3 separate regions of the Homo sapiens genome follow, and all the other regions are linked to region 3. Evidence: fine-mapped expression QTL. A gene starts in region 3. Each other region holds a variant in brackets. All regions are shown on one strand. Distances are between the middles of the regions.

Region 1 (10,863 bases), 190 kb after region 3:
CTGAAATTTGGATCCTATTAAATCTCATCTGACTAAGCTCTCTGTACAATTCTCACTTCTGGGAGGATTCAAGTCAAATCAAGTTTCGTAGCTTTGAAATTTCATCCCTCTGCATGCAATACTACAGACTTAGCCAGAAAAGTTGTGAGATCTGAATAATAAGGAGCAAGTAGTAATTAGAAAATAATTCCAGCTAGAAGACGATCTATGCTCTATGCTCATCAGTAAGAATCTATGAATTAATTAATCAATCGATGTCAGATATTTTTTTAAATACCTATCACCTAATTTATATTTTTTGCCATAAGAAAATTCTCAAAAATATATTTTCTAATTTTTTTGTTCAATGTTATCTTCTTTTTTCCAGTTTCCACTTTTCTTCTCTATAAAATTATTGTATTCATCATGAGTAAATTTTTTTCTGCAGGCTTTAAAAAAATGTTTAAATAATCAACTATGACATTACTTCTAGCTATGGTCTCATACTGTTTACCTTGTAGCTATAAAGTCCATTTTTCTTTAAACTGCCTAATTTGTAAGATATAACTTATGAATGAGTCAGAGTTCTATAGATACAGACAACAGAAAGAGGCTCTAGTTCATTTATGGAAAGGAAACTTACTGAAATATATCAGACTTCATCGCCTGGAAGTAAGGCTAGAGAACCAGACTTTGAAATGTGCTGATCCAAGGTATTCGCAGTGGTCCAGGATCTGGAGATCACAAGAATGGCTTCACGTTGACAAAATCCAGGACTCGCCCCGGAATAGATTAATCCTCTCTTTAATCCTCTACCCAAGATTTAAATTCCAGAGAGTAGGTGTCTGATTGGCCTGGTTTCAACCATATATTCAGACTTGGGCTAAGAAAGTATAGGTCTGCTGAGTAAAAGTCCACCAGGCTGAATCCAAAATGGTAACAAGGCCAGGCACAGCGGCTCATGCCTGTAATCCCAGCACTCTGGGAGGGCGAGGCTGGTGGATTGCTTGAGCCCAGGAGTTTGAGACCAGCCTGGGCAACATGGTGAAACCCCGCCTCTACTAAAAATACAAAAAATTAGCCGGGGACAGTGGCACCTGCCTCTAGTCTCAGCTACTCAGGAGGCTGAGGTGGGAGAATCACCAGAGCCTGAGGGGTCAAGGCTGCAGTGAGCCAAGATCACCCCACTGCACTCCAGCCTGGACAACCAGAGTGAGACCCTGTCTCAAAAAAACCAAAACAACAACAACAATGACAAATATATAAAAATTTATATGCAAATAGTAACAACAATAATAATAAAATTATAATTCCCTCTAAAAGAAATGTGATGTTATTAGGAAAGAGAAATGAATGCTGAACAGTCACACATTAAAGATGCTCAATACACCATCCTTAACCATTTTTTTTATAAATACCTCACCTATTTTCAACCCATATTTAATAAAATAAAAATCTTTTTTTTTGAAACAGAGTTTTGTTCTTGTCACTCAGGCTGGAGTGCAGTGGCGATCTCGGCTCACTGAAGCCTCTTCCTCCCTGGTTCAAGCGATTCTTTTTTTTTTTTTTTGAGACAGAGTCTCGCTCTGTTGCCCAGGCTGGAGTGCAGTGGTGCAATCTCGGCTCACTGCAAGCTCCGCCTCCCACGTTCACACCATTCTCCTGCCTCAGCCTCCCGAGTAACTGAGACTACAGGTGCCCACCACCACGCCCAGCTAATTTTTTGTATTTTAGTAGAGACAGGATTTCACAGTGTTAGCCAGGCTGGTCTCGAACTCCTGACCTAGTGATCCACCAGCCTTGGCCTCCCAAAGTGCTGGGATTACAGGCGTGAGCCACTGCACCCAGCCTCAAGTGATTCTTGTGCCTCAGCCTCCCGAGTAGCTGGGATTACAGGCGTGCACCACCATGCCCGTCTAATTTTTTGAATTTTTAATAGAGACAGGGTTTTGCCACGTTGCTGAGGCTGATCTCAAATTCCTGTCCTCATGTGATCCACCCACCTCGGTGTCCCAAAGTGCTGGGATTACAGGTGTGAGCCACCACACTCAGCTGAAAATCATTTTTTATGACCATTCTGAAAACCCAAGAAGCTCCTTATCAATGCTTGATAATTGCAGTCACTGAAATACAGAAAGGACTAAGTGGATTTTATTCAAGCTGAGAGTTCAGAGTAGTGAAAAGCTCTTAGTGGTTCTTTAAGAATTTTCTCCCCATTTCTGAGTGGCAATACCATCAGCTGGCCTGATGAGAAAGTGGTTTGTCACACATTCTTTTGAGTCATAGTGAAAGGCATGATGGTGTCACCTAAAATTAGTAGATTAGCTATGCTTCATTTCTCATCTACACCAGGAACTGGTAAGGTTATCACCATGACCATGGCATTCCTTTTCTTCTTTATTGTCCTATATTGGCTAGAAAGCCCACCTCATCCTACATTTTGACCTTCCCTCTGCTTCCTCATTCCTGTTAGTAACTTGCTTTTTTTTTTTTTAACGTTATTGATATCTCCTCATCCACCCCCATTTTCTATCAAGCATTATAAAGTGAAGCCAAGGAATTATATGCTTTTCCTCATCTCTTTAGTTAAGAAATTCTAAAGTAAAGCCGGGCGTAGTGTCTCACATCTGTAATCCCAGCACTTTGGGAGGCTGAGGTGGGTGGATCACCTTGAGGTCAGGAGTTCAAGGCCAGCCTGGTCAACATAGTGAAACCCCGTCTCTACTAAAAATACAAAAATTAGCCAGGTGTGGCGGCACATACCTGTAGTCCCAGCTACTCGGGAGGATGAGGCAGGAAAATTTCTTGAACCCAGGAGGTGGAGGTTGCAGTGAGCCAAGAGCAGGACAGAGCAAGAATCTGTCAAAAAAAAAAAAAAAGAAAGAAAGAAAGAAAGAAAGAAAGAAAGAAAGAAAGAAAGAAAGAAAGAAAGAAAGAAAGAAAGAAATTCTGGCATTCTTTTTTGTTTTGTTTTGTTTTGTTTTGTTTTGTTTTTTGTTTCGCTCTGTCGCCCAGGCCAAAGTGCAATGGCACAGTCTCGGCTCACTGCAACCTCTTCCTTCCGAGTTCAAGCAATTCTTCTGCCTCAACCTCCCAAGTAGCTGGGACTATAGGTGTGCACCACCACGCCCGGCTAATTTTTGTATTTTTAGTCAAGACAGGGTTTCACCATAGTGGCCAGTCTGGTCTCAAACTCCTGACCGTCCACCTCATCCTCCCAAAGTGCTGGGATTACAGGCATGAGCCACTGCGCCCAGCCGTCATATTTTATTTGTAATGGGACACAGGGTATCTTCGAAGTCCTTAAAAAGAGATGTGCCAAATGTTAAACTGAGGGAGGCAGTTTTCAGTTGTTTAACTTTAGACTCATCAGGAGTAGAGTGGAAGAAATACTTTGAAAGTTATTTACATTCTTTGCTTAGGTTTTTGACATAGTGAATGGTATCTAGAAAAAGTCAAATTCAATCTTTTGGGTAGTTTTAAATAAAATAAAAATTTTGATTACATATTGATTTTTCTCATGGAAAGGAGATAAGTTCTTCTTGTTGTTGTTGGTGGTGGTGGTGTTGTTGTTGTTGTTGTTGTTGTTGTTTGAGACAAGTCTCGCACTGTCACCCAGGCTGGAGTGCAATGGTGGGATCTCGGATCTCTGCAACCTCCACCTCCCAGGTTCAAGTGATTCTCCTGCCTCAGCCTCCCAAGTAGCTGGGATTACAGGTGCCCACCACCACGCCCGGCTAATTTTTTGTGTTTTTAGCAGAGACGAGGTTTCACTGTGTTGGCCAGGCTGGTCTCGAACTCCTGACCTCGTGATCCACCCTCCTTGGCCTCCCAAAGTGCTGGGATTACAGGCATGAGCCACTGTGCCCAGCTCTTCTTGTTTTGTTGATGACACAATTTCCTTATTCATTCTGTTCACAAACAGGTTTCTATCTCTGATTGCTAACCCAGTTATTTTATAAATGGTTAACCTAGTAGAAGGATTTTAAGAGAACGGGCATACATGAAAGTTATCAAAAATAATTTGAACAAGCTTCTCTTCATTTTCTTCCCAAAATAAGAAAAATGGTCATAAAAACAGCTTGAGCTACCACTGAACATATATTGTTGCTCTGGTAAAGCATGTGTAATTTGGTTAGGGAGTCTGGTTTGCCCACAAATATCTCACTGAACATCTCAGAGAAGTTGATTTCCCTCAAAACAGAGCCTGAGACAAAAGTTCACGTGACACTATCTTACTAGTATCCCTGCAATCCCAGGGAAGCAGGAGTGAGGGAGTAGAAGAATGAGGAAGGGAAGATGGGAGAGCCAATATGAGGATGCCTTACCCCGACAAACCAGCCAAGACATTCCCACCTTCCCCAGGGTCCCCATGTATCTATACAAAGTACATTTCTCTCTCCATACCAAGTGAATGACCATTCGCACTACTCATAACATTGCCTGCCTGGAGAGAGGATTTCTTTTCACAACTGTCCCTCCGTCCTTGAGTGGAACTATAATGTGGTGGCAATTTACTTTCCACTATCGCTAATGTACTGTGAGAATTCATGTGTAAACTGGGCCAAGTTATTTCTTATTCCATCACTTAGTCAGAAGGGGGCACTTACTCCCCTCCCTTCATGAGGCCCAAGTGTGAGTTAAGGGAGGGTTATTGGTGCTACAGAGACAGATGACCTGAAAGTTTGAGATACATGTGCATATAATTCATTCATACCTTTTGAATATGGTCAAGCTGGATGCATATGTTTCATTTATATCATAAGTCTAATGATACACCCATCCAAACTTATCACTTACTGTATCTGATAACATCCTGATGAGTAGATCTAGTTGCATAGTCACCTGGTGTTCCACAATCAGGAACAGTTTCTATTAGAATCCAGTAAAATATCCAAAGCCAGTTTTCATATGAGACCATTCTTGTTATCAGCAGTTCCTGGACCTCATAAGTTGTATTGGCTCTGTTCATTTCAAAGCCTGATTCTTCATCCTTTCTGCCAAACAATGAGTACCTGAATTATCCCAGTAAATTTCCTTTATTTAGGTTAAGCAGAGCCTGTTTTTGTTTCTTACAGCCAAAGAACCCTGCTTCATAAAAATGGTATACTGTTCAGACAGGTTGATGGTAGTTCTGTCATTAATGCAAACTGAATTATGCATTTTTGTATAACATGTTATCTTCATGACATTATTGATCTACTAGAGCAAAAACATAAGAAACTGTTGAGTTTTCCATCATGCCCAAGAGACAAAAAAAAGCAACTTGGGTCTCTCAGCTCCATAGTCAAGCAAAGTAAAATACCACCACACTATTTATACCTAGTTGGATCCTAATTTTCCTTCTTTGGTTATTTCACAACCAATTCATGGTTAACTGTTCAATGTTACACATTTAACTAGTTCAAGAGTAAAATCACATATCTTACTCCAGAAATTATGCCAACTTCATATAAAAGAAAAATCAACTTTTTGAATGCTTTTCTAAGAATTATATTTTTGTACCTACTTAGGAGGTTAGTTTAGGACATTAAAGCTGAAAAAATATCAATACCATTCTTAGGCTCATTTTCCTCAAAAACAACTTCCTAAAAACTGGTTATAGAGATAGCCAGATGGCTGAAGAACAAAGTAGTAGTAAGACTTTTGATTGCCTTCCCTTTTGAACATTTAAAATTTTGCATTATGTAAACAGATACCTAGCCAAAAAATAAAATTTTTTAAAACCACCAAAAAATAAGCTAAAAAGTTGTATGAATTTATGTATCTTTATATAGTAGAATAATAAACATACATTAAAAATTATACTCTTAGGAAACACTAAATGATAATGTATAGGGATGCACACACCATAGCAAAACTATAAAGAAAAATAAATGATTAAAAGTCATTAGGGTAATTCACTTCAGTAGGGAGG[G/A]AGATGGTTATGTTATAAGAGTATTTCTGGCTGGGCACGGTGGCTCACGCCTATAATCCCAGCATTTTGGGAGGCCGAGGCAGGTGGATCATGTGAGGTCAGGAGTTCGAGACCAGCCTGACCAACTTGGCGAAATCCTGCCTCTACTAAAAAAACAAAAAAATTAGGCGGGCGTGGTGGTGCATGCCTGTAATCCCAGCTACTCAGGAGGCTGAGGCAGGAGAATCGCTTGAACCCAGGAGGTGGAGGTTGCAGTGAGCCGAGATTGGGCCATTGCACTCCAGCCTGGGCAACAAGAGCAAAACTCTGTCTCAAAAAAGAAAAAAAAAAAAAAAAGAGTATTTCTGGGGTGACTGAGTGAGGTGATAGTTACAGGTGTTCACCTTATAATAATTATTTATATAGTTTATTTGTATTCATATTATATTTAACAATATAAAATTTTGTAATAAAGGAAAAAAATTTTCTTTTTTTTTTTGAGTCAGTCTCGCTCTGTTGCCCAGGCTGGAGTACACTGGCACGATCTCAGCTCACTGCAACCTCCACCCCCTAGGTTCAAGCGATTCTTGAGGTTCAGCCTCCTGAGTAGCTGGGATTACAGGCGCACACCACCACTTCTGGCTAATTTTTGCAGTTTTAGTAGAGACAGGGTTTCACCATGTTGGCCAGGCTGGTCTCGAACTCCTGACCTCAGGTGATCCGCCTGCCTTGGCCTCTCAAAGTGCTAGGATTACAGGCATGAGCCACCACGCCTGGCCAAAAATACTATTTTTTAAGGATTTTTTTTAATAAAATGGGAAAATGTTCACAATACAAAATTCAATGAAATCGAGGATACAAAGCTCTCTATGCAGTATAATCTCAATTAGGTGTGCGCATGTTGTATATTTGTAGAAATCGACATTAAAATAAATATATCAAATATTAATTATACCTTTTAGTTTTTGTATTATTTTATATAGCTGCCATAGTTTCTTAAATGTATGATATAATAATGTGTAAGATGAAAATTTCGTTATAAAGGATGAAGTGATAAACCTAGCTTATAGAGTAAATATTAAACCTTAACCGTTTCAGTTCCTATAAACATAGGCATTTAATACGTTATAACAGTAAAATTTTAGAGCTAGGGGAAATCATAAGAGATTGTCTTCACACATGCCTCTGTTTTACAAATGCAGAAACTAAACAGTAGATAGGCTAGCTGACTTGGCCAAGGCCCCGGGTTAGTCGCAGACCTGGGATGGGGCCAGGTTTAGCACAGTGTTTTGCCCTTCCTCCCACACTGATAGTGCCTTGTATGGAGGTAGAACAGAAAGCCCTGCTCTTTAGGGAAAGTTTCACTAACTTTTCAAAACATGAGTATGTGATAATTATAATTAAGGACTATCACAAATGAAGTGTAAATTTATAAATGTAACCATCTAATAAAGCTTCGGTTAAAATTAATATTGGGGCAAGTTTATTTTTGAATTTTTTAAAGATAGAAAGAAACAACAACAAACCCTTGAGTTTCCAGAAGAACTGCCTGTATTCATTCATTTAACATACTAAAAGCAGCTTGTGACTGCCATAAAGTATGTCATTGCCGCCTTCAGTACTAAAAAAGTGGTCCAGTATATGAGGCAACTGCTCTAAATCATGCTTGTTTGGACAGGCTGTTTCTTAGTTCCACCTCATCTGCACTTTAGCCCCACTCTGTGCTGTGTAGACCCAAGCGATTTGCACAAACACCACATGATCCCAAAGGTACTTTCCCAGGGAGAAGGAAAAAAAACATAAAAGTTAAACTAACCCTTGTAAGTTCTAGTTACCACTTAATCTTTCTATGGTTTGACTACCTTTCTTTTTTTTTTTTTTTTTTTAGTTTTTTAAACACTTCAAGTCATAACTCCTCAGTATTTAATATTTAGATTTTTTTCCCCTTATTCTATTCCCCCAGAGTTAATCTCTTCTCCCCACTTTCGTTCAATATCTATTATGTGCCAGGCACCATCTTCAGTGTCAGGAATACAGAAATAAGCAAAACATGTTCTCTTCCTTCAAGAAGCGAATTTTTTTTTTTTTTTTTTTTTTTTTTTTGTTGAGACAGAGTCTCGCTCTGTCACCCAGGCTGGAGTGCAGTGACACAATCTCGGCTCACTGTAACCTCTGCCTCCTGGATTCAAGTGATTCTCCTGCCTCAGCCTCCTGAGTAGCTGGGACAACAGGCGCATGTCACCATACCTGGCTAATTTTTGTATTTTCAGTGGAGACAGGATTTCACTATGTTGGCCAGGGCTGGTCTTAAACTCTTGACCTCAGGTGATCATCCTGCCTCTGCCTCTCAAAGTGCTGGAATTACAGGCATGAGCCACCGCTCCCGGTCAAGATGCGAATTATTTAGAGGAGCAGCTAGACAGATAAGCTAATGATGGCAATAAAATGTGCTTGGTAGAATAAGGAGATCAATGGTGCTATGCTCATGGCACCTATTACTCTAGGAGTAACAATCAGGGCACTTAACACAAGTGCCTGGTTCTACATTCCCACCTCTTCCTGCAACACGCTATATCTATAAGATGATAAGATGAGCCCAATGGAAGCCCTACAAATCCTGATCCCTACTCTAGGTCAAGCTTATACAAGTAAATAGATTTCTTTTTTTTTTTTTTTTTTTTTTTTGAGATGGAGTTTCACTCTTGTAGCCCAGGCTGAAGTGCAGTGGTGCAATCTCAGCTCACTGAAACCTCCGCCTCCTATGTTCAAGCGATTCTTCTGCCTCAGCCTCCGGAGTAGCTGGGATTACAGGCATGCACCACCACGCCCAGCTAATTTTTGTACTTCATTAGTAGAGACAGGGTTTCACCATGCTGGTTAGGCTGGTCTTGAACTCCTGACCTCAGGTGATCCACCCACCTTGGCCTCCCAAAGTGCTGGGATTACAGGCATGAGCCACCGCACCCAGCCTCAAGTGAATTCTTAAAATGTAGCTTTGAGAATTTGAAATCATTACCTGGGCATTTTTAAAATTTTGACAGTTTATAGTTTACCTAGATGTTTTGGATTATAGACCCCCAAATCTAACGTATTAAAATTTTTTCTGAAACAGAGCTTATTATTTTATGGTTTTGAATTGTCCCTCAGAATCAAAATTGGAAAATATTTTTACTGTGTAATTTTTCTTATGCTTCTTACTGAGAAAATGACTCTCCAAATCTGAAGATGATGAAAAATACACATTGGGATTTGTTACTACTTATGTGTACACATTTGAAAGACAGTTTAAATCCACATACTATTTATGATGTTCTTGGCTGCAAGTAATTAAAAAAATTAATAATTCCCTAGCAAGCAGATGCAGATTGAAAAAATTAAAAGTGGTGAAACTGTAAGGATACTTATTTTACTATATGGCAAGAAGTATGGAGGTAGTTCTGCTCCTGGACTGGCTCAGTCGTCATTAAGGACTCAAGTTCTTTCCTTCGCTCCATGTTCTTTTTTTTTTTCTTTTTGAGACAAAGTCTTGCTCTGTTGCCCAGGCTGGAGTGCAGTGGTGTGATCTCGGCTCACCGCAACCTCTGCCTCCTGGGTTCAAGCGATTCTCCTGCCTCAGCCTCCCGAGTAGCTGGGATTACAGGCATGTGCCACAGCTGCCAGCTAGTTTTTGTATTTTTATTAGAGGCAGGGTTTTGCCATGTTGACCAGGCTGGTCTGGAACTCCTGGCCTTAAGTGATCTACCTGCCTCGGCCTCCCAAAGTGCTGGGATTACAGGCATGAGCCATGGAGCCAGCCTCATGCTCTCATTCTTTGCGTGGTGGCTTAGTCCTCAAGCCTTATCCTTCATTGCTGCAAAGTGGCTGGGGCATATCTTGACATCACATGAAGACCTAGAATCATTATCTTCCATGCCCCACTTTTTATTTAATGGGGAATATTTTTCCTGAAGTCCCCACAGAATTAGCTCCGTTGGCCACAGTTGCCTCTCATACCCAGGCATAAGTCATTCATTGTGCAAAGGGTATGAGACTACCATGATTAGCTTAGATCAATTAAGATAGGCTTTTATGAGACTGCAGAGGGGTCTATCTTCCCTCAGATAACATGTTGAAGGATAAACATATCTGAGATTTTGTTAGTATGGAAAAAGCAGTGTAAGGCAAATAGTTTCAGGGAAATTATACTCAAACTAAAAATTCAGTGTAAAATAAATACAACAACTTTACTACCCACAAGTTTTGGTATGATGCTTAGAATCTGATCTAAAATCCACTCACTCTATTCTTTCAGCAAACATTCTTTGATCACTTATTACACGTTGGGCACTGTTCTCCGTACTAAAGCAGAGAACAAGACAGATACGTATTTGTATTGGGAATGCTTTCAGCAGCAACTGACAGAATAGGAAATTAAAAGTGGCCAAACCATAGGGACATTCAGTGTTTGCCCAGAGAAATTTAGAGGGAGGCAATCCCTAGTCCATCTCCTCTGAAATATAACCAAGAGTCCAGGTTCTTTCTTCTCTGGGTCCTTAACGTGCTGACTTTTGTCTTTATTCTTTTCACTTCATTGTTCCATAGCTGTCATAGTTCTAAATACCTCATCTACTTTCAAACGAGAAAGAAATGGTAAAGGACACTTTTTTCTTATTATTGTCCCTTTTGCAAAGATTTAAAAACCTCCAGAAGCCTCCTATGCAGATTGCCATGAAATCTCATTGGCAGGATTGTGTGCCACACTGGTCTTCTCAAAAGCAAAGGAGTCTAGGAAGGTAATTATCCAACAAAGTGTTATGGAGCCACACACACTGCTGCCCCAGATAAAATGGGGATTTTTTTTTTTATAAGGGGAGCCATGGATAATGGTTACCCAATTACAATGTTTGCCGTAGTCCCCTTTTCCTGGAATTAATTCTCTGGCCACTTCTTGGAAAAGTAATAATAAATTAGGAGTACTTTTCATACTCTAGTTTTAAAATTATGTGTGA
Region 2 (10,863 bases), 61 kb after region 3:
CCGTTATTGTCTTCCACAGTATCCCTGATAACAAAACCTACACCTAGCTCAGGTATTACATGTGCTACTCCTGAACATCTCCATCTCTTGCTTAAGGAAATATTGCTGTGCAAGTACAGTCTTGTAATAAAAGGAAATTGTGACTGGAAAAGAGAAAAAAAAAAGTTGCTGATAATAAACATGTTAGGAAAACCTGATCTTGGGAAGACAGTTTGACATTTTGACACAAATGTTTCCTAATTATCATGGGAACTCTGTTTAGGCTATAAGACTCTATTGTTATTGATGTCATTGTTGATTTTCCGGGGCAATAAGAAAACATGTTATCAAGAATTAATTCCGTTTTTGTTTTTTAATCATTTTCTTTTTTAACCATTGACTGAGAGATACAAATTCTAGAAATTAAGGAATTCCAGAATTTTAAAATTGGGTTAAATATATCCAGAGCTGATAAAAAGCAGTATAGAGTGGCCAAAAGAATACATTATTGGTGGTCCTCATAATCAATTTGACTTTCTGTAATTGTATTAAATTAATTCTTACACATACATATATGTATATATTAGAAGAGTGCTTGACAACAATTGTATAAGTGTTAGCTATTATTACTATATATTTATATTTATATTATTATATAGCAATTATGATCTTTCTTGGCAAATATTACTACTAGTTTGCACTGAAATTGCAAGAAAAGCTGGATCATAAATGGAAACATTTTTTATTCAGATTCCCTAGGTTGATATATGAAGCAAAATATGAAAACACTTATTTATGTGGATATGTATATATTCGTCTGTACTCACCATCTACTTTATTAGTTGTTGGAGAGATTAGAGAGTAATGCATTTAAGGCAGTTTGCCTTTGGCTGGTACATTATTTTTAATAATAGGTTTTATTATTTCTCAACTTTAAGAAACTTTTTAAAGGGTCAAGATAATGCTGAGTTTGGAAATGAGATAAGAAAAACAAGAGAGAAAGATAGCATGTTAGGAAGTGAGTAGAAAATTACTTCCTTTAAGTGAGATAATTCCCTAATCAAAAATATTGCCTATGATATTGATAATAATTGCTAATGTTTTTTGAGCATATACTATGTTGTAGGTATCATGATAATCACTTTCTACATATTATCTTGTTTGGTCCTTAGAACCAAATGAAGTGAATGTTGTATTATCTTTATTTTGCCTAGGGATTAAGTAATTTTCTTAATGTCACAAATTAAATATAATAGTACTGAATGATATCAAACCCAAGCAGTCCAAACCCGTTCTAACACACTGCTATGCTCTCTCCACGATATATGATTCTTTACTCCACAGACCTTACTTCATACCAGATTATTTTGCCCATGTTCCCCCGATGCTTGCTAATTGCGCTTACATTTTCTGTGTTTTGTCTCTCTAACCATTCCTACACTCTTCAAAGGCAGAGAAAAAGCTTTCTATTTCTTTTTTACTTAACCCAAAAGCTTATTAAGGGCAGAACACAGAACGTTTCTGAAGAAACACCCTGGGCTCACAGCAGAGAGCAATGCAGATAATAAACACCAGGAGTACTATCTAAAACCTAAGAAACATCAAAATTATACCCTTTCCTCACTTTTCTTAATCAATACTTTCTATTTATTCAGAGCCAAGCTTACAAAGGGTAAAGATTGCCTTGATGAAGAGCAAGCCCTCTGTCTACTGATGCTGACATCTAGAAAAATCACTATGCTCAGATTCAATATTCTGCACTATAGCTCCCTAATAGACTCAAACAAATGGCAATGGATACACTCAGCCTTTTCTGAGCTTCTAGAAAACATTCACCTATTGCATTTCTCTTTAACTTCTTTTTTAATTATCTGACTGCCTCTTACCTGAGCCCAGTAGAATTTTAAATATGAGAAAGGAATCATCAGAGAATAGGCTTAAAATGAAAAAAGGAAATAGGAAATTGTATTTTATTTGACTTTTTAAAACTCATCTACTTTCAGATTGAGTCAGTTTGCTAGCTAAAACAAGATTTTGGGGTGAATAACTTTTACTAGAACATACAAAGTGCATTTTAACAATGGTCTACATTCACAAGTGGCCACTATTCTTGTCCAAACACAATTCAGCTGAGTGTTCCTAGGCTTCCAAACCCAGAACAAAGCAGAACAAAAGAAAAATATAGTATTTGAAGTGCCTTGCTTGTGCTTTTCTAATCTAAACAGACTGCTCCCATATTAAGAAAATTACTTTAGGTGCAAATGATACCTCAAAAAGAAGTAGATAGATATGCACTGATTCTTTTTGACATTATAATTTATAGCTTAAATTAATTTTAGACTAATTTTCCTCTTACTTAGAGCAAAATATTGCTAAGGGAACAGCCTGTCTTCATCTGACTTATAGTAAACATTTGCCACTTAGTATTCTGAAACCAGCTGGCTTTTTTAATCTTTGGCAATAGACGCTAACGTATCCTTTATGAATTATGGCAAGCCAATAGGCAGAGAGCAACCCAGAAGGTGTAAGAGGTCTAACAATCAACCAGGCAATAGAATGGGGGTTGGTAACCATCAACTGCATGCCCTGAAGGCAAATTTTCCACAGCTTTCCAGATGCTGCCATGCTGCCTCCCTCACTCCACCTTTTGCCCCAGCTCTCCAAACTCAGCCCTGGGGAGTTGGTTCATTCAATCCTTCAAAGAAGTGCAAGGATAAAGAAGCAGGAAACTAATTACCTCATGGTGTGATAAGTGCAGGATAATTCTATAGAAAGAACACCTAACGTAAACCTAGAAGATCAAAATAAGCTTCCCAGAGAAAGTGATGTTCTGACCAAGAAGAGAAGAAAAGAGTTAGACACTTGGGCCAGGCACGGTGGCTCACACCTGTAATCCCAGCACTTTGGGAAGCCGAGGCAGGAGGATCACTTAAGGTCAGGAGTTTGAGACCAGCCTGGCCAACATGATGAAACCCCATCTCTACCAAAAATACAAAAAATTATCAGGGCGTGGTGGTGTGCGCCTCTAGTCCCAGCTACTCAGGAGGCTGAGGCAGGAGAATCGCTTGAACCCGGGAGGTGGAGGTCGCAGTGAGCCGAGATCGTGCCATTGCACTCCAGCCTGGGCGACAGAGAGAGACTCCATCTCAAAAAAAAAAAAAAAAAAAAAAGAAAAGAAAAAGGATGAATAACAAGAAAGAAAAACAGCCTTATTGCTGATATGGAGAAAGGTTTTAGTGGTCTAGGTAGAAGATTAAACCAGATTTTTGAAAAAAAAAAAAAAAAAGAAAAAGAGACACTTGAAGAAGAGATGGAAAAGCAATCTAGAAAGAGAAAAGTATTTGCAAAGGATGACAGGTAAGCATGACCAAGGAACTGAAAGAATTTCAGTTTAGCTGCAGCATCTAATGAACACAAACGCTTAGGGATCTAGAGTAATGGAGACAACATCTCATATCCGCAACAATAGAAACATCTGGCTTTCTTGATCACCACAGCAGGGGAACAGACATCTGAATGACTTTTATATACTTCAGTCTAGAAGTGACACACATCACTTCTACCCACAGCCTATTGGTTAGCACTAGTCATATGCTTCTCCCACCCCACCCCCAAAATTATAATGACCTAGAAAAGTAGGGGCAGATGTAATGTTTAATGCATACCACTGTCTCAGGTATAGGCATGATATTAATGGCTGTCTTACTCTATTTGTGTTGCTATGAAGGAATATCTGAGGCTGAGTAATTTATAAAGAAAATAGGTTTATTTGGCTCATAGTTCTGCAGACTGTACAGGAAGCATGGCACCAGCATTGGCTTCAGGCCACTTCCACTCATGGGGAAGGCAACGGAAAGGCACATGCACAGAGATCACACGTGAGAGAGGAGGCAAGAGACAAAAAGGAGGGAGATGCCAGGCTCTTTTTGAATAACCAACTCTTTGGGAACTAATAAGAGTGAGAACTCACACAACCCCACCCCATGCTGACAGAGCATTAATCTATTCATGAGAGATATGCCCCATGACCCCAACACCTCTCACAGTCCCCGCCTCTGACACTAGGAATCAATTTCAACATGTGATTTGGGGGACAATATTCAAACTATAGCAATTACTTTGTAAGTCATGTTTAAGCAGTTTGCTTTATTCTGAGGGTATCAAAGAGCCAATAAAGAATTTTAAGCAAGATAATTAAAGGACTGGATTTAGAACTTTTTGCAGCTCGGCAGGGTTTCCTCCCCTATTACTTCTCCTCACCTCTAAGTGGATAGGCAGTCTTTCAGAAAGCTATCCATGGAAATGATGCTGTTAACAAATATGAGATAGTTAAAATCAACAGAATGATCCATTGTCACCCCCATCCCTCAATTAAAAGCATGTGCTTTTTTGAGTGCCTCAGAGAGTAAATGCCCCCCCCTTTTTTTTAAAGCTCCTAGTTATGGTGTAGCAGCCTTAAGGAAGATGGATCATTCAGGCATAGTCAGGCACTGATATGTTTTAGTAAACAGAACCAAGAGAAGGGGATACCATGAGGCCTGAGCTTTGAAAACGAGGAGACAACTGCTGTTGTTGGCACATCCTTTCATTCCTTCTAGACACAAGCCTCAGCAGACATCCAGTGCCATCAGATCACTCTTAAAGAAGGGCCTCAGCGTAGCATCCACAGCTGGTCACTACTTCCTCAGGGATGACTTGCACCTGGGAGGAAAAATAGGATAAAGGTGGAAGTGCAGTTGATGTTGTTTCTTTCCTTATCTGTATTGCCAATAAAATTGCCTTTTCAATTTTTCTCAGTGATTAATATTTGTATGATGTGTGTGTATCAAGCAGACTACAGCAGGTCCTCTTTAGCTCCTCTTGCTCCAGTGGTCAATAACTCAGTGATTAGCAGAAGCACCTCAGAAGCTTGTTAAAAATACAGAGTCTTAGTTCATGCATTCAACTTACTTAATCAAACTCTCTGGAGTAGGATCCATGAAGCTAGTTTTAGTTGTTTTTGTTTTTTTACAAAAATTTTGCAGGCTTGTAAAATGTTGCTGTAGTTAATGTAGAAGCAATCTGCCATATAATTTTTTTCTTTTTTTTTGCGATGGAGTCTTGGTCTTGTTGCCCAGGCTGGAGTGTAATGGTGCAATCTTGGCTCACTGCAACCTCTGCCTCCCGAGTTCAAACAATTTTCCTGCCTCAGCCTCCCAAGTATCTGGGATTACAGGCGCCTGCCACTACACCCAGCTAATTTTTTGTATTTTTAGTAGAGACTGGGTTTCACTATGTTGGCCAGGCTGGTCTCGAACTCCTGACCTCAGGTGATCCACCGCCTTGGCCTCCCAAAGTGCTAGGATTACAGGCATGAGCCACCACGCCCGGCCTCATAAAATTATTTTCTAGCTAAAGATCTACTATGGCTTTTAGTCATTTACAGGGTTTTGTTTTGCATTATTTAAATGTGTCTGTTTCAACACATCTCTCTCAAAAAAAGTTTTCAAAAAACCAGAGACCTTGTCTTCCTCCTGTTGAATTTCTGTGCCACTTTACACATTGGTAGGTACTTGGCAGACATCTAAAAAATACAGAATAGAAAGCAATAACATCAATTTGAATTGGTATTCTTGATGGAGATGAGTCTGCAGACGCATATCACAGGAAAGGAAACAGCATTCCTCCCTAGGGCACAGACCTATTTTTATGTTCAAGCTGCTCCTTTTTGGTAGACAGCGTCATAAGCATCACCAACTTAAGTCTGCTGTTTGACAGGTGGAGTCTTATGTGATTGACTTGATAACATTCACTTTCTGAAAACATTTTTTTTTCAGCCTTCATAGAGAAGTTACGGAAGGAGCATTTTTATTGCCATGTTGCAGGTTAGCCAACAGGATAAAATTTGTTCATTGTGGCATCAAAATAAAAAAATAGCTCTTTTCTTTTTTTCCTAAATTTTTGTGCTCTTTATCCTCATTCTAGATGCCAAAAAGGTATTTGCCTTTTATATGCATGTTTTTGCTTTGTATTTAATACAGGTTTGAATATTTCAGAAACTTTATGAAAATATGGAAACCCTATTTGGAATTTGATCTCAATTTGCAGAAAGAAAGTTCAGGAAATTTTTTTTCAGTTAAGAGACAAACAAACACCTGTTAAAAGTGATGGGCCAGGCGTGGTGGCTCAGGCCTGTAATCCCAGCACTTTGAGAGGCCAAGGCAGGCAGATCACTTGAGCCCAGGAGTTTGAGATCAGCCTGGGCAACACGGCAAAACCTCATCTCTAAAAAACAAAATACACAAAAATTAGCCAGGCATAGTGGTGCACACCTGTAGTCTCAGCTACTCAGGAGACTGAGGTGGGAGAATCACCTAAGCCCAGGAGGTC[G/A]AGGCTGCAGTGAGTCATAATTGTGCCACTGTGCTCCAGCCTGGGTGACAGAGTGAGACCCTGTCTCAAAGAAAGAAGAAAAAAATTTGAGAGACAGCAGCTTATGATGCCAAATAAAACATATGGATGTCAATTAATTTCAACTTTTCTGCAATCTGTATGCCAGTTTCATAAGGAAATAGTTCAAATCAGGGCATCCACAGGAAGAAAGTAGTTGGTTGATGAAATTTCTTCCTCTGCTCAAAGTTTAACAACCGCTCTTAAATTTCATCATGAAATGCTTGACCTTGGTACTGAAAGAAAAGAGTAGTACTAAGAAAAACTGCCTTCTTCTATAGACCACACCCTTCTTGAAAATAACTTCTTATGAAAAGTAATATCAAACAGGCTAGCATTTCCTTCATAAAAATTATCCAGTAAGAAAGCCTTCTCAGTGCAACTGGTTAATACCATTTAAAATTATTGTTTCTGAAAGACCATGAATATCACAACTTACCTCATCACCACAAGTTTGCAAATTAACCCATTCATCTGGAAAAACTAAGTTGGACCAAAATGGCCATGATAACTATAATTACAATAAGAAGTTATAATAAAATGCAGGTGGCTGCTTGATATTGCCATTTCATCTTGTCCAGCTCCAGACACAGCAAGCAATGGAGCTCAGAAATTACCCCCAGATTATGGCATTATAGCTCAAAGCATAGTGCCCTCTAAGGAAACAGAAATGTCTCTCTGTCATTAGTTGAATGTCAACAAAAAGTCACTAAGGGATAATATTGTTTTTTTAATTCCAAAGAAAATGTTTCCTGACTACATGACAACTCTTAAACACTATATCACATTTTCACACTCATGCTGAACCTACTAGCACACAAATTAAATTCCTGGTACCTTAAACATAAAAGCAATCAACCAAGTGCTATTCTTCTTCAATCATTAAGGCTTCTCACTTTCAAGAGGAAACAAAGCTTAAAACAGGACCCTTGAATATTGTATTTCCTCTACAAAATGTATTATATTTCATAAGCAAGCATTTTAAAATAGATAATGCCATCCACATTGAAGAGAACTTACATTTTTATATAGACTCAAATATATCTTCACTATAAATACTTACTAGTAATAATATTTATTTTAACAGTGAAACCCTAGTTAACCAAAATTATTGGTGTATGTATACAGTACATTGAATATGTCTTTATGCATCCTTTTAGACTTTCACCTCACCTGTCTTGCATTCTGGCTGCAGGTGAAGCAACCAGTCTGTGCACTTCCAACCACTTTAATATAGGTTTTCTTTTACAGCACCTTGTCTCAGACCAGTCCCCAGGAGCCTCTCATCTTCTGCCCAGGTGTTCTCTGTTGACCACACTATGTGAGATGACACAGAAGCATGTTTTGCACCCATGCATGTGTTACCTAGGAGGGTAAAGCCAATCATTTGACCATTGAGAGATACAGGTTTCTCACTGTCTCAGAAGGACAGTCCTAAGACACATTTTATGTGCCTGGGTGATTGAGGAGCTAGTTGCCTGTAGACATATATACTTGATAATACATTGTCATTTTGCATCTCTCTTCTGTTTGGCTCACCTTTGATCTCTGGACTCAATACTTCCCAATAAAGTGTTTTAAAACAAGACTTTGTCTCAAGCTCTGCTTCCTGGCAAACCCAAGCTAAGATATAACTGTACAACATATACATATATAATAAGAATTACTGCTGTCACATACTGTTAAGTTACAACAGTTCAAGAATGGGTAAAAGTAAATACTGTTACCATCATTATTAGCCATGAAAAAGACAAAAGGGATTATCTAGCTCAATGATCTTTCTAAGTTTATGTAAGACCCACATTCTAATTAATTAAATAGCTACAGGCATATGTATCTCAAATTCAAAAGACTGCTTAACCTTTCCTGCTTTTGTTCATGTTAAGAAGGAAAGCCTTAAGCACCTTTAAAAGAGCAGATTTATTTGTTTGTTTGTTTGTTTGTTTGTTTTTATAGAGATAGGGTATAGCTATGTTGCCCAGGCTGGTCTCAAATTTCTGAGCTCAAGCAATTCTCCTTCCTCAGCCTCCCAAAGTACTGGGATTACAGGTATGAGCCACCACATCCAACCAAGAGTGGATTTTTTTTTTAAAACTTTCTCAATGACAGAAGGGAAGTCAACCAACTCATAGGTTCATACCCACACAAAATAGCACATAAACCTTGTTTAACCATTACTTACACACACACACACACACACACACACACACACACTCTTGCATGCACATACACAGACCCAGGGGATCAACAGCATATTCACACAGGGATAAGAATACACCAGAACAGAATAGACCAAAACTTAGAGATAAACCTTTTGAACAGGGCGTTTTTTTAATCCAGGTAACTACTTGATGATCATAGTGCAAATTATGCCCTCATAAATAAAAATAAGACACAAAACAGATTATAGAAATTCTAAGTCTTTACTAAACTAATTTTCTCAGATTGTGCTGGACACAGACAAGTCATATACTAGATTCAATGCCATTAACTATACACTATAATAGTTTCTAATATCCATGTATTACCTTATATTTTAATAACTTTTTCACTGAGTTGTCTTATTTAATCCTCCAAATCTGTGAAATAATTGACTTTATCATTCCCATTTTACAAATAAAGATCAGAGAGGGTAAATAACTCATAGAGGATACAGTATACTGCCTGCACTGCAAAGTCAGAATTTGTAGAACTATTTATTGAGCCACCCTTTCAAACTCATTTTATCTCTGGTTATTCATTAATATTGTCTCCCACATACCAGCTTCTCTGCTAACCACTTCTCTAACTTGACATTCTAAAAGGATCCTAGATGTCTGCTTTCAGTTCCCTAGATTTCACCACTCCTTAGTGTATTTACAGTCTCCTCTGCTTCTAAACGTTTAGACCAACCCAAATCACCCATAAACCACAAACCTATGATGATTGTGCACACCAGTTGGCTGCCTTCCTAGAAGTCCTCCCCAGTTTTTTCCATGCTTGAAGGGCCCTGATTTCATTTGATGTCTACCTCTCTTCCTGCCACGAGAACCAAGGAGGGGTTACCCCATTTTCAGTTCCAAGAGTAAATCTTGATAAGCCTATACCAATAATTATGACCCCAGTTGTTTTTCCAAGGATTGGTTTAAGCATGATCACATGACCTAATTCTGCACAATGAGACATGAGGGGAGATGATATGGGAGAAACTTATGGAAAGGTTTTCCACTACCGTTATGAGCAGAATTGTGTTGAATTAATACGTTGAAGCTCTAACTCCCAGTACCTTAGAATATGAATGCCTTTGGAAATAACACCTTGTGTGTGTGTGTGTGTGTGTGTGTGTGTGTGTGTGTGTGTGTGTGTGATGGAGTTTTGCTCTTGTTGCCCAGGCTGGAGTGCAATGGCACAAGCTCGGCTCACTACAACCTCCACCTCCCAGGTTCAAGCAATTCTCCTGCCTCAGCCTCCCAAGTAGCTGGGTTTACAGGTATGCACTACTACACATGGCTAATTTTGTATTTTTAGTAGAGACAGGGTTTCACCATGTTGGTCAAGCTAGCTGGTCTCAAACTCCTGACCTCAGGTGATCCCGCCTCAGCCTCCCAAAGTGCTGGGATTACAGGCATGAGCCACTGAACCCAGCTGAGATAATGTCTATAAAGAGGTTACTAAAATTAAATGAGGTTTTATGGGAAGTCCCTAATCCAATCTGACTGATGTCATTTTGAGAGGAACTATGGACACTTGAAAAGACACCAGGGATAAGCAAACAGAGGAAAGACTATGTGGGGACACAGAGAATGTGGCCAGCTGTAAGCCAAGGAGGATGACCTCAGAAAAAACAAACCTGTGAATCTTGGTGTTGAACTTCGAGCCTGCAGACTATGAGAAAATAAATTTCTGTTCTTTAGGAAGCTCAGCCTGTGGTATTTGGTTATGGCAGCCCTAGAAATCTAATATAGTCATTTAAAAATGACATGTAAATGAATTTTAAAATAATGACACAAGGAAGGAAGCACCCTTTCTGTTACTGGACATTTTGATATCTGATTATGAAGATGGGAATTGCTTTAGCCATCTTACACCTGTACAGAGAATCCATCTGAGAACTGGTTTCCATGTTGAGTATGGCAGATCTACCAAAATATACATAAAACAAAAACTTATTTCTTAATGATGCTGCTGAGCCACTGAATTAACTAAACTTAGATCACTCTGTCTTCAAATGTCCTCTTATATGAAAATAAGTTTCCCTGATTTCTTTAAGCTGTGGTTTTCTATAAATTATAGCCAAAATCATCCTATTGATACAATCAATTGGATAAAGTTTAGCTATTGACAAGCTAAGGCTGTTTCAGCAGTTGCTCTAGACTTTACTCCTTTATTACTCATCAGTTCTTAGTCTTCTTCCATTTCCAACTCTATACTCTTGGCTCTTAAGTTTTGCCTCCAACCCGTCACAGAGTTTTTAACTTA
Region 3 (10,863 bases):
TACATACATATACACATATATAAATACATGCTTAATGAAAGGAAACAAAAAAGGAGATGTAGGAGAGAGTAGAAAAAAAATAAAGGGAGGTCCCTGGGAGGACAGAAAAGATGGAATCTGGGATTGAAATAAAGGAATTAACTTTAATACATTTTCCTCTATCAGAGGAAGGAAAAGGGGTAGATCGTTAGAAGAAAGAGCAGAGTTAAGAACGGCATGTTTGTGTCCCCCACAAACCATACAGTAAACCCTAACACCTAATGCGATGATGTTAGGAGGTAGAGCCTTCGAGAGGTGATTAGGTCATGAGGCTACAGCCTTCAAGATACAATTAGTGCCCTTATGGGGAAAAAAATATAGAAGAGTGCTTACTTCCTCTGTCTCTGCTCTCCACCATATAGGATACAAGAATATGTACATCTACCAGCCAGAAAGTGAGGCCTCACTACATGCTAGATCTGCCAGAGGCTTTAACTTGGACTTACAGCCTCCAGAACTGTGAGAAATAAATGTTTGTAATTTAAGCCAGCCAACCTACGGCAATTTGTTATATTAGCCCAAACTGACTGAGACAAGGAAGGAAGAGAAAAAATGAGGAGGAAGAGGACTATTAGGAGGAGAAAGACAGAAAGCAAAGAATTGTTAACATTTCATGAGTGCCTTTCAGATGAGATAACTGAGCCTCAGGAAGATTTTCACCCAATAAATGGCAGAATTTCAATCTAAAACTGATTTTAAACCTTAATCTATCTTATCCATTCTGGATAAGAAAAGGTGGAGGGTTGTGATGCTTCCAATTTTCCCTTTAGGGTAAGAAGTGTTCAGATAGAGTAGGAATATGGAAGACTAAAGGCTTAAGGAGAATGGAAATTGTTTCACATAGTTATAGTGGAAACTGAGAAAGAGCCGACTCAAGAAAGAAAAATATCAAGGGCCCAGAAAGAATTGGAGGTTTTAAAGTTTAAAGTGACACCAATCTGCACAGGTAATTATTTTCTCTAGCAAAGCTCAGCTGGAAATGTGAAGACACCATGGTTTAAGGTTTCATGAGGTCACAAACTCAGAAGGACAATGACAAAAATAAGTTGAGGATTTGGGCAAGGAAGATGCTAAAATAATGGGATATGGAATCCAAGACAGATGGGATAAGAAGTCAAGTCAGGAAAGGATGACAAGAAGAACATGTCAAAGACTGAAGATTCTTAGAAGGTGGCATTTAGATGTATCCTTGTGCCTAACATATTGCCTAGCATAAAGTAGTAATTGAGTAAATAATTTCTAATTAATTAATTATAACCAAGACCTACCATGTTGAAGTATAAGGCCAGAAAGGACATTTGACTCAGACTTCTCCTTTATAAAAGATTCTAAATGAGACTTCTTTGGATGTCAGCAAGACCTGATGGTAACCCACTAGGATGATTCAGTCAAAACAGCTTTCCTAGATAAAATATGGCATGGACTTCTTCAAAGTTTTCTCTAGAAGGGCTTAGACCTGTGCTTCTTTACTTAGATGGGCTTGTGCTAGTGAAAGCCTGCTCTACAATGCCTCTGTAGCTTTACTCTATAAATTTTACCTTTTCTTTAGGGTTTTTTCACAGTAGTTACCCTCAATATCAGGCCTTTTCACCACGGTTATGATTACCCCACTTAAGATACTGAGAAAACATTATTTCTCTTGCTTTTCTGAAGAATAGCTAAAATGTTCTCTCTCTCTCTCTCTGTGTGTGTGTGTGTGTGTGTGTGTGTGTGTGTGTGTATGCATGCTCTCACTCTCTATATATCTATATAAATATATAGATATATATTTCAGTGAGGCAACTGAGGATCTGATAAATGCAGCAACTTGACTGGCTTCATAGCTAGAACATAGCAGAATTCAAATATGTGTGGTTTACAACTCTTATTTCATCTCTTCATGCTACTTACAAACTTTATATGTGACAAAATACAGAAAACTAAGGAAATCCAGGTCTTAAAAAAAAAAAAAACTCCACATTTCAAGTGAGAGTTCAATAGTATCTCTATCTTTTGAAGTAAAACAAAGCACAGAAGGAAAATCCAGATAAATTGCTTGGAATTTGCAATGAATCAGAATTTTACTTAATATAATAAGCCCAAAATGGAATGGGTTATTTGTCAAAGTGTTGAGTTTCTCATCTCCAAGCACATTTGTGGGGAGATTAGCCAAATGTCAGGGTCAACCTGGTTAATTTCCACTTCTACAATCAAATTTTCACTTTCTAACTGTTTAATCCTCACCACTTTTACAAGATAATAACCTAGACCTAAGTTGGCAGATTAGGTGGAACATTCATATGTGACCGAGAATGATAGAGCAACGATCATTACTGAGAGCTCTGTGTGAAAGAAGTATCAGAATGTAAATGATATAGCTGCTCCCATATGAAAAGCTATGAGTCTCGTTTTTATTTCTAACAAATTGGCTAATAGTCAACAGTGTGTATCAACCCATAAACAAATCTCACCTCTGTGGGCAAGTTATGCAAAATCTACAATAGAAGTTCTACACAAGAAAAATATACCTAACCAAACATTTTCAGAGAAGGAAAAACATAATTTTACAAAGGTCTAACACCATGTGATTTTGATAATATGAAGCTAAATAATAAAGAACACTAAAATAATAAAGGAAGCAAAAAGTTTTGTTTTATTTAGTATGTTCATAATTAAATCAAAGAAGAATTCTCCATATTTTTTAGAGAAATTAAGATCGTATGGCTAAAAATATATTTATCCATGTAGACAGGACAAAAATAATTTGTGAAGGCTTTGTGGGTGAGCAGAAAAGCAACAAAAATATTTCAAAGGTAAAAAGACATGTAGAAAAAATTTAAATATTCATGTATATATAATATATATTTATGATAATGGGCTCTGTAATATAGTATGAAAAAAGATCCAAGAATGTTATGGAACTGTTCGTGAAGATATCAGCTAATGGGCTGCTGCAGCATATAAAAATACTGCAAATATGAATATAAAAATACTTTAAATGTGAGAGGGGAAGGTGCTCTACCCTTTAAAAAAATTATGATATGCCTGTAACTGATTGCTAAAAATAGTTCTAGTCATTGTGCCTTAGGAAAGCCTTAATAGGCTAGAAGTGGATGGATATATGTTTATGTAAAAAGGTATATTATATATAATTGTTATCATTACTATCATAAGCAAACAAATTCTATCATGTAAAGGAAAACATGTAAAACTCTTTAAGGCTGTAAAAATGAAAACAGGAGAGCTATTAGAGGTCAACATAACATAATAAAGTATATGTAATGAATGACTCCTTTTTAATGAGTTCTCACTATATTGTAAGCACAGTTCTAAGCACTTTACATGTATTAACTCATTTAATCTCCACAAAATCCCTTCCTGTAGGCACTATTAATGTCCCAGTGAGGTACAGAGAAGTCCAATACTTTGCCCCATGTCACACAGCTAGTAAGTAGCAGAGCCAAGATTAAAATGCAGGCATTCTCATTTCAGGAAGTGCGAGCTTAATCCACTGCCCTTGAAACTCAAATCTAATTTTTGTCTTGTCTCTCCACTGAGAATTCTTAAATGGAGAGCTAGTTGATACACTGGAAGTAGGTAAGTTTGAGGTAAATAATTATAAAATGAACTATAAACCTTGAAATCTTCAGAAGACAAATCTTCTGAATTCTCAGAGACAAAACAAATGGAAAATACAAAACAAGAATCAGGAGGTCTCTAGAGTCACACAGACAATAGCATAAAGCAGGGAAAGCTGGGGTAGGTAAATCTCTAGCCTCTTGAAGCAAGCCTCTAGAAGGTCAGGTAGAGCCTCCCATGGGGCTGCACTTCATGCCCCCAACAGATACAGGCTGCAGAGCAGGATGAGTCTCTGACTTCACCCCAGATGGCATTCATTCCTTCTGTGATATGGAAACGTCAGAACTGTGTCTACCTGTGTCAGTGTTCTCTGTATTGAGTTATAAATATCTGCAGGGTGGGGAACAGATCTTACTCACTTGACATATTACCCAGCTCAGCACCACACACAAGGTTCTTGATAAACAGATTTTAATTGTTATGATATGCCACTCTTTCACTCAATTTCACAATTTCATACACCCATAGGATCTACTTTAAGAAGTAAGAATGTGTTTTCAATCTATTTTTTGTCTGCCACTGCTAAGAATGTAGCTGAATGCATGACTTTACAGCATTGTTTTAAATAGAGAATCTCAGTAAAATATTCTTTAGGGGAGTACCAAACCTAAGATTAATAACTGTTCATTTTACTGAATATTCTGACAAAGAATTTCTTCAGACTGGGGAAGTAAGTATTCTGAGGGATTTTCTCCATATACACAATCTGCCCTTCGGAATCCACTGAGCTTTTGTTCAGCTGCTGTGTTTTGTAGTTAACTTCATGCTGCTCTTGCTCACATTACCAGAGCATCTAGCATGAAACACAGTCTTGTCCTTTTCCAAACATCTGTTAGCTGGAAAAGGAATGTCACATGTCATCTCTCTCCCTCCTTCCATATTCTTTCACTTCCTGAGAATGCGAACCTATACAGGAGAGTATAAAAGAGCTTATTCAGTGGAGTTGGGTCAAGTGGCCAGCCAAGATTCACCTTTATTACATCTAGTAAATACAATGCTCTATTCCAACTTTGAGGGAACTTTTCCTCAAAAGACAGAGAATGTCTCTTGCTGTGAGAATTGTGCAGTTTAAAAATCATATTGTTCATTTTTCTGCTCTCCTAAGAGTAAACAATCAACATTTGGTCTAGACTGGTCTTGAGGAGGGCATGGCTTTTAAGGACTTTCATGGGAGCTGTATCACCTGGAATCCTGGACTAAAATTGTGGGAGCTGGGGAAGAAAGCAGAGTTCTGCCATGGGATCAGAAGTAGTAAGTAAAACTAGTCCAAGAAGTTACATAGTTAGAAATCAAAATCCCAAAAAGCTAATGATGTATATGCTAATTACCTTTACTTTCTTTCTATAAGCCTTCCTTTGCAGCTATGAATTTACTTTTAGCTAAATTCATTATAATCACATAAACATGTCCACCATTTGATGCCTACAACAGTGACATGACAGTACAGGATAAGCCACAGCTCCTCCTCAGGGAGTGCCTTCTTCACATAGCCTTGCCCAGTTTCCCTTAGGGAAAGTGCATTTGTTCTTGACTCTATTTCAAAACAACTGCTTGTATTCACTATACAGATCAGTGAACCCATTCTTAGATGTTAGCTATCTTCTCCACTACATGCAAAAGTGGGGACCAGGTTTGTTCTCTATATGCCACTATTTCATACATAATGCACTGGTCTTCCACTGCACTCTTCACATAGTAGGTATGCTTCTTGCATTATATTTTCTTAACCTACTAAAGATAACTCACATCCTCCCAAATTTTACCACAGCTTGCCTCCAAGTCTGCACTTCAGTCTTTCAGAATGGTCAGTCAGAAATACAAGAGTGAAGGTTGGGTACACACACATTAAGAAGTGAGGAGAAATGTTATATGTTGACAACTGATTATTTTAATATATGCTAGACCCTATAAGTGGCTATCATTATTCATGCTGTGCATTTCAAATATAATTTGAAAACAGGTTTCCACCTTTAGTCATTTAATCTCAAAGCATATTTATTAGAAAGAGGCCAAAGCTTTGAGAAAAACAAAGATTATTCTCTCAATAACAACCAAAATAGAAATAAATTTTTTTATAGCATACTTATGCTTCTGAAACTCAGTGCCTATTGAACTTAAATGATTATTCAAACCAAATGAGCTTTCCTAGATGAATATTTTGAATTGTTTAGTTTTTATTATCTTTATAAATTCACTGTGTAGTACAGAAGGGCAATTCTTCATAAACTTCTCCTGAGTGGACATATAACAAGTATAATTATGCTGCCCTTATTCTTACTGGCATTCAAATAATTGACATTTTTTAAAAAGATTTACTGTCAATATTTTGGTTAAAAACATTTTAATGATTAGCTTCATACCTCCTGCAGAAGGTCCTCTTCATTATTCATCTCAACACTTTTTAAGTTCAGCGTTAGAAACCACAATATCCTCAACAAATGCATTCAACATGTATTTATATGTGTACCTACAACAAAGACTGCAGATGATGAATTCCATAGAGGCTTTTCCAGAGGGGTCTGGCAGGTAATAAAAGATAAACATCAGATTCTGATGTGTCATGCCCAAGGCACAGTATGCTGGAAATGCACTAGAAGAATCGAATGACAAATGCTTGTTTACGCCTGACTCCCTGCAAACAAAAGACATACAAAGCTTAAAATTGTGTTGGTTGATTTTTTTCTCCAACATACAGAATTTTTGTTACATAACAATTGTATTCTGGAATGATATCTATTGTCAGATTCAGATGATGAAACACTTATTAGACGACTATGCTATCAAAGCCCACAGACAAAAGCACAGATGGAAAAATACAGCTATAAGTGACCCAGATTTTTACCAATGGCAAAGATCCACTCATTTGTAATTCTCATTTTTATTTTCTTTTCTAGGTCCCTCTGGCCTCCAAATTAATTCTGGACCTTCATTATAAAACTGAAATATCTTTCTTTAGCTTTTCCAATTCTCCGATGTCAGTCTGTGACAAATCCCAGACCATCCCCACTGTGCACAATGAACACAGAATCATCTACAGGCTGCCCCATATGGTCCCATAAACAATCCTAACTCAGTAGAGGAAATAGGGAATGCTTTCTCTTCACTAGTAAAGGGGGTTTGAAATCACACTTCTGCTGCTATCAACTCAACTTCAAGTATTGTTGATGAAGGAGGATATGCAGTTTCTTCTGAACCAAACCAAATTCTCTCTAAGCATTTTCCATGTGGAAGTGTATAGTCTCCATGGCTAATCACTTCTTCCTGGTCTTCTGGGCCTGAGGAAGACCAAGCCAATACTTACAACCACTCAATCCTGCCTGACTCTCTTGGCCCATTTCAAAAGCCCCATTTCCTAAAGACAGTGATTAACTATTCCTATTTCCATTCCATTGGTACTTGTTCCATGACTGACTCTAAAGCTTCTGCTCTGTGTAGCCTGATCTACAACCAGATCTTGAATTTGGACCTAGTTCTGATGCTGATGCCAGCCTGAAACTGCATCCTGAATATGGCTGTTTTGGACTCTTGAACCTCCCCAAGAAAAGGGATTCTATCTCCTATCCTAGTATTTGACTTGCTCTTGGTGCTTTCCCCCAGATCTCTAGTAGGGTGTTTAATTCCCACAATGTCTTGTACCAGAGCCTTACCTAAGTTTTTCTCAATCCTCTTCTGAGACCACATTTGCTTCCACTTTTACAACTTTTTCTTGCATGTGCTTGTCTCCATGCAAAACAGGTGCCATTGAGCTATGGAAAAAAATGTTTTGTGAAAAATTTCGTTTTTGTTTCAGAAATGTTCCCTTTCCTATATCAAAGAAAAGAACTCCAAGCTGGTTTACATGTTCAGTTACATATTGGGACATGTTTTAAAAAAATCATTCCTTTATAGTACTACTTACCCAAATTTTCTCCTGGGAGTTTTATTGTTATTGAATATGCAATTTGATTCATTTCATCTTCTTTTCCTTACCTTATTTTGACAATCTCTTCTTCTCAATGTGTATCCATGATTTTTTTATAATATCCTTTCCTGAACCTTGATTTGCCCATTTTTGTAAAAAGTGTTCTAAAGCTTGGTTGGACATATGGTGTATAACCTAATTTATGGTATTAGCATGATACATATTTTAAAAGTATTACCATTATTTAGAATCAGTTTTTCCAAAGGAAAAACCAAATGTCAGTAAAGGGCTTAACAAATAGATTAGAAAAATAATAAATGGTCAATAAGTCCATATTAAACACTTTCATTCACAAGCATTTGTTCAATCTGTACTATATCCAGAAAGCTATCTTAGTCAAAATGAATATAGTCATTGAGCCATGAATGTAAATGATACAAGTCTTTCTCTTACCACTCTTCTGAGACAACATATGGAAAGACCGTTCAACTCAAGTACTTCTCCTGCCAAAAAGTTGTAATCTAATTGAATGGATCCAGAGAAGAGTAACTAAAATGATTAAAGGAATTATGGGATTCATTTCATGAGAACAGATTGCAGAAGCTAAAGCTTACTAAGTACCAACAAGGGGAAACAATATGTTGTTTACCACTAAGTTACTGCCTTCTGATGAATTATTGAACAGGATTGGAAGAGCAAAGGATGCAAATTAGGTAAAGGATTAAATCTATTCTTTCACTGTGGGAGAAAATGAAATCACAATGAATCTGTTTTTGTTTCATGTTTACATATATTATATGTTACAGTACAGTGTATAAAATACAAAGTTCTTGTCTTCCCAGCACTAACTGATAAGGAAATAGGGTGAAAACATGCCCAATGAGACCAAGGGAATAACTGACTTGTGAGAATAATAGCCAAGTTCAGTGAAGGAAATAATCTTTCTTATGACCTTCATGAATCACAAAAATATGGTTTCAGGTCAGCATAAGAACATAACAACCACGACAGAAGGATACTTCCACCCTACCTTTCTCCCGATTTGTTGTTGTTCTAGAAGCTGCATGGGTTTGTTCCTCCTTTATATGCATCTAATTATGACATACCTAACAGGAAGACTACATTGACACCCTTTATTGAAGATAACATCATACAAAAATTATAAGGAGTAATATTTGAGCTTCCCTAGTGGTTCTAGAACTCCTGTTCACAAAGGCCCCCAAAAGTTCCTTTCATGAATCCAGTCCCCATTTCTTTTCAGTTCTTCCCAGAAATACCTCATTTTCTAAGAAAATGGTAGATCTGTTTACAGAATTAAGATTTAAAACCGATGATTAAAAAATATTGGAGTGAGGACAGGTAGAAAATCAGTGAATTCAGGGCTGAGCGGAAACACACATTGGCAGGGAAACTGAAGAATATTTTTGTGTGTCCTTTTCATTTGTTTCAGAAAGGGAATTTCTCCTCTCATCTGCCCCTTCGATAAACCTAAGTAAGCAATGAGTAGAAAACAGCGTAACTCCCTGAAAAAAATTATTTTGTAAAGTTGATACAATTTAAAACTAGTTTAAAATCATTTTAATTTAGCATTTTCAATGATTTTCACATATCCTTAAGCATTTATATATTTAGCACAAGCTTCATAAAGTTAAATGAAGTCAGTTGTGAAAGTGGAAGCATGAAATTCTGAATTCCAAGGCACATAAGGAGCTTGCAATCACATATAATAAGTTAAAAATTATTCCAAAACAGCCCAAGCTATTTTTAGAAGGAGAGTGCCACAGAATACATTTCTTTTTATTTGTAAGATTTATGGAGTCCAGGTGCAGTTTTGTTACATGAATATAGTGCATAGTGGTGAAGTCTTGGCTTTTAGTGTAGCCATCACCGGAATAGTATACATTGTACCTGTTAAGTAATTTCTCATCACTCATCCCACTCCACCCTTTTGAGTCTCTACTGTCTATTCACAGAAGACATTTTTATAACACCATTAATTTTAAAAAATTGGTAGCTGGTGTTGTCCTTGTTTCCTTCTTTTAATGGCATCATTCTACTTATTGTGATAATATCTACAAATTCTTGAGAGCACCAAAACCTCATATACACACACACACACACACACACACACACACACACACACACACACACAGGTTATGTTAATCAATATTAGCATATTTAAAAATATAATAATAATGGGCATTGTACATATTAACATAAATAGCATTTTTTATAGAAAATTGATTTCTTATTTTCACAAATTGCTCTAATGTCTAGCTTAAGAGAAAAACCACTGGAATCTCGTATGTTTTTGCATTCTTTTTTTTTTTTTTTTTGAAACACAGTCTGCTCTGTCACCCAGACTGGAGTGCAGTGGTGCGATCTGGGCTCACTGCAACCTCCGCCTCCCGGGTTCAAGCAATTCTCCTGCCTCAGCCTCCCAGATAGCTGGGATTACAGGCACCCGCCACCACACCTGGATAACTTTTAGTATTTTTAGTAGAGACAGGGTTTCGCCATGTTGGCCAGGCTGGTCTGGAACTCCTGACCTCAGGTGATCCACCTGCCTCAGCCTCCCAAAGTGCTGGATGACAGGCGTGAGCCACCGCTTCCGGCTTGCATTTATTCTTTTGATACAGCCCATGTCATGCAACCTCTGGAAAACTTCACTATACACTAATGCTAGATGAGAATGAAAAGGCAAATAGAGTCTTACCATTACTGTGAAAATAATTTTGACCTCACAGTCTCCTCAAAGGTTCTTGGAATCCCTAGGGGTCCCTGAACCATACTTTCAGAACTGCTGCTGTAGTGAAACAACCAGCAGATTAAAGACTTGAGTTCTATAGGAAACACTGTTTTTTAAAGACATATCACATAGTTTTCTTGATAACAGTTTCCTTTTGTGCAAAATGTGGTTTAGGGCAAGATGATCTCAGGTTTCTCTTAACTCTGTTCTGTGATTGTGTAAGATATTAAATGAATTTTATAAAACAACTGAGAATACACATTGTCTTCATGAGCACATGGAATATTCTCCAGGACAGACTATATGTTAGGACACAAAACAAGTCTAAACAAACTTTTAAAAATTAAAATTATATCAAGTGTTTTATCAGACTCCAATTAAATAAAACTAAAAATCAACATCAAGAGGAACTTTGGAAACTCTACAAATACATGCAAATTAAACAACATGCTCCTGAATGGTCACTGGGTCAATGAAGAAATTGAGAAGAAAATAAAAAAAAATTTTTTGGAAACAAATGAAAATAGAAAAACTACATACCAAAATGTGTGGGGTA

The links. PIP is the estimated chance that this variant, and not a neighbour inherited with it, causes the effect. A credible set is the group of variants that fine-mapping cannot tell apart.
Region 1: its variant is the best candidate, but not a certain one, in a credible set for the expression of LGSN in whole blood (TOPMed, PIP 0.56).
Region 2: its variant is the best candidate, but not a certain one, in a credible set for the expression of LGSN in whole blood (TOPMed, PIP 0.64).

Annotation. Positions count from the first base shown.
Region 1 is chr6:63,502,711-63,513,573 of GRCh38, forward strand. It overlaps a transcript of LGSN not described here. Among named protein-coding and RNA genes, the nearest start is that of PTP4A1, 64 kb to the right of the region's middle. RefSeq lists an enhancer at 1,968-2,107. The variant G/A (reference allele first, on the strand shown) is at 5,897.
Region 2 is chr6:63,374,787-63,385,649 of GRCh38, forward strand. It overlaps a transcript of LGSN not described here. Among named protein-coding and RNA genes, the nearest start is that of LGSN, 60 kb to the left of the region's middle. The variant G/A (reference allele first, on the strand shown) is at 6,349.
Region 3 is chr6:63,313,897-63,324,759 of GRCh38, forward strand. LGSN (lengsin, lens protein with glutamine synthetase domain) reads right to left here and starts at 6,087. Exons shown (of 4, transcript NM_016571.3): 1 at 6,018-6,087. The coding sequence starts at 6,047.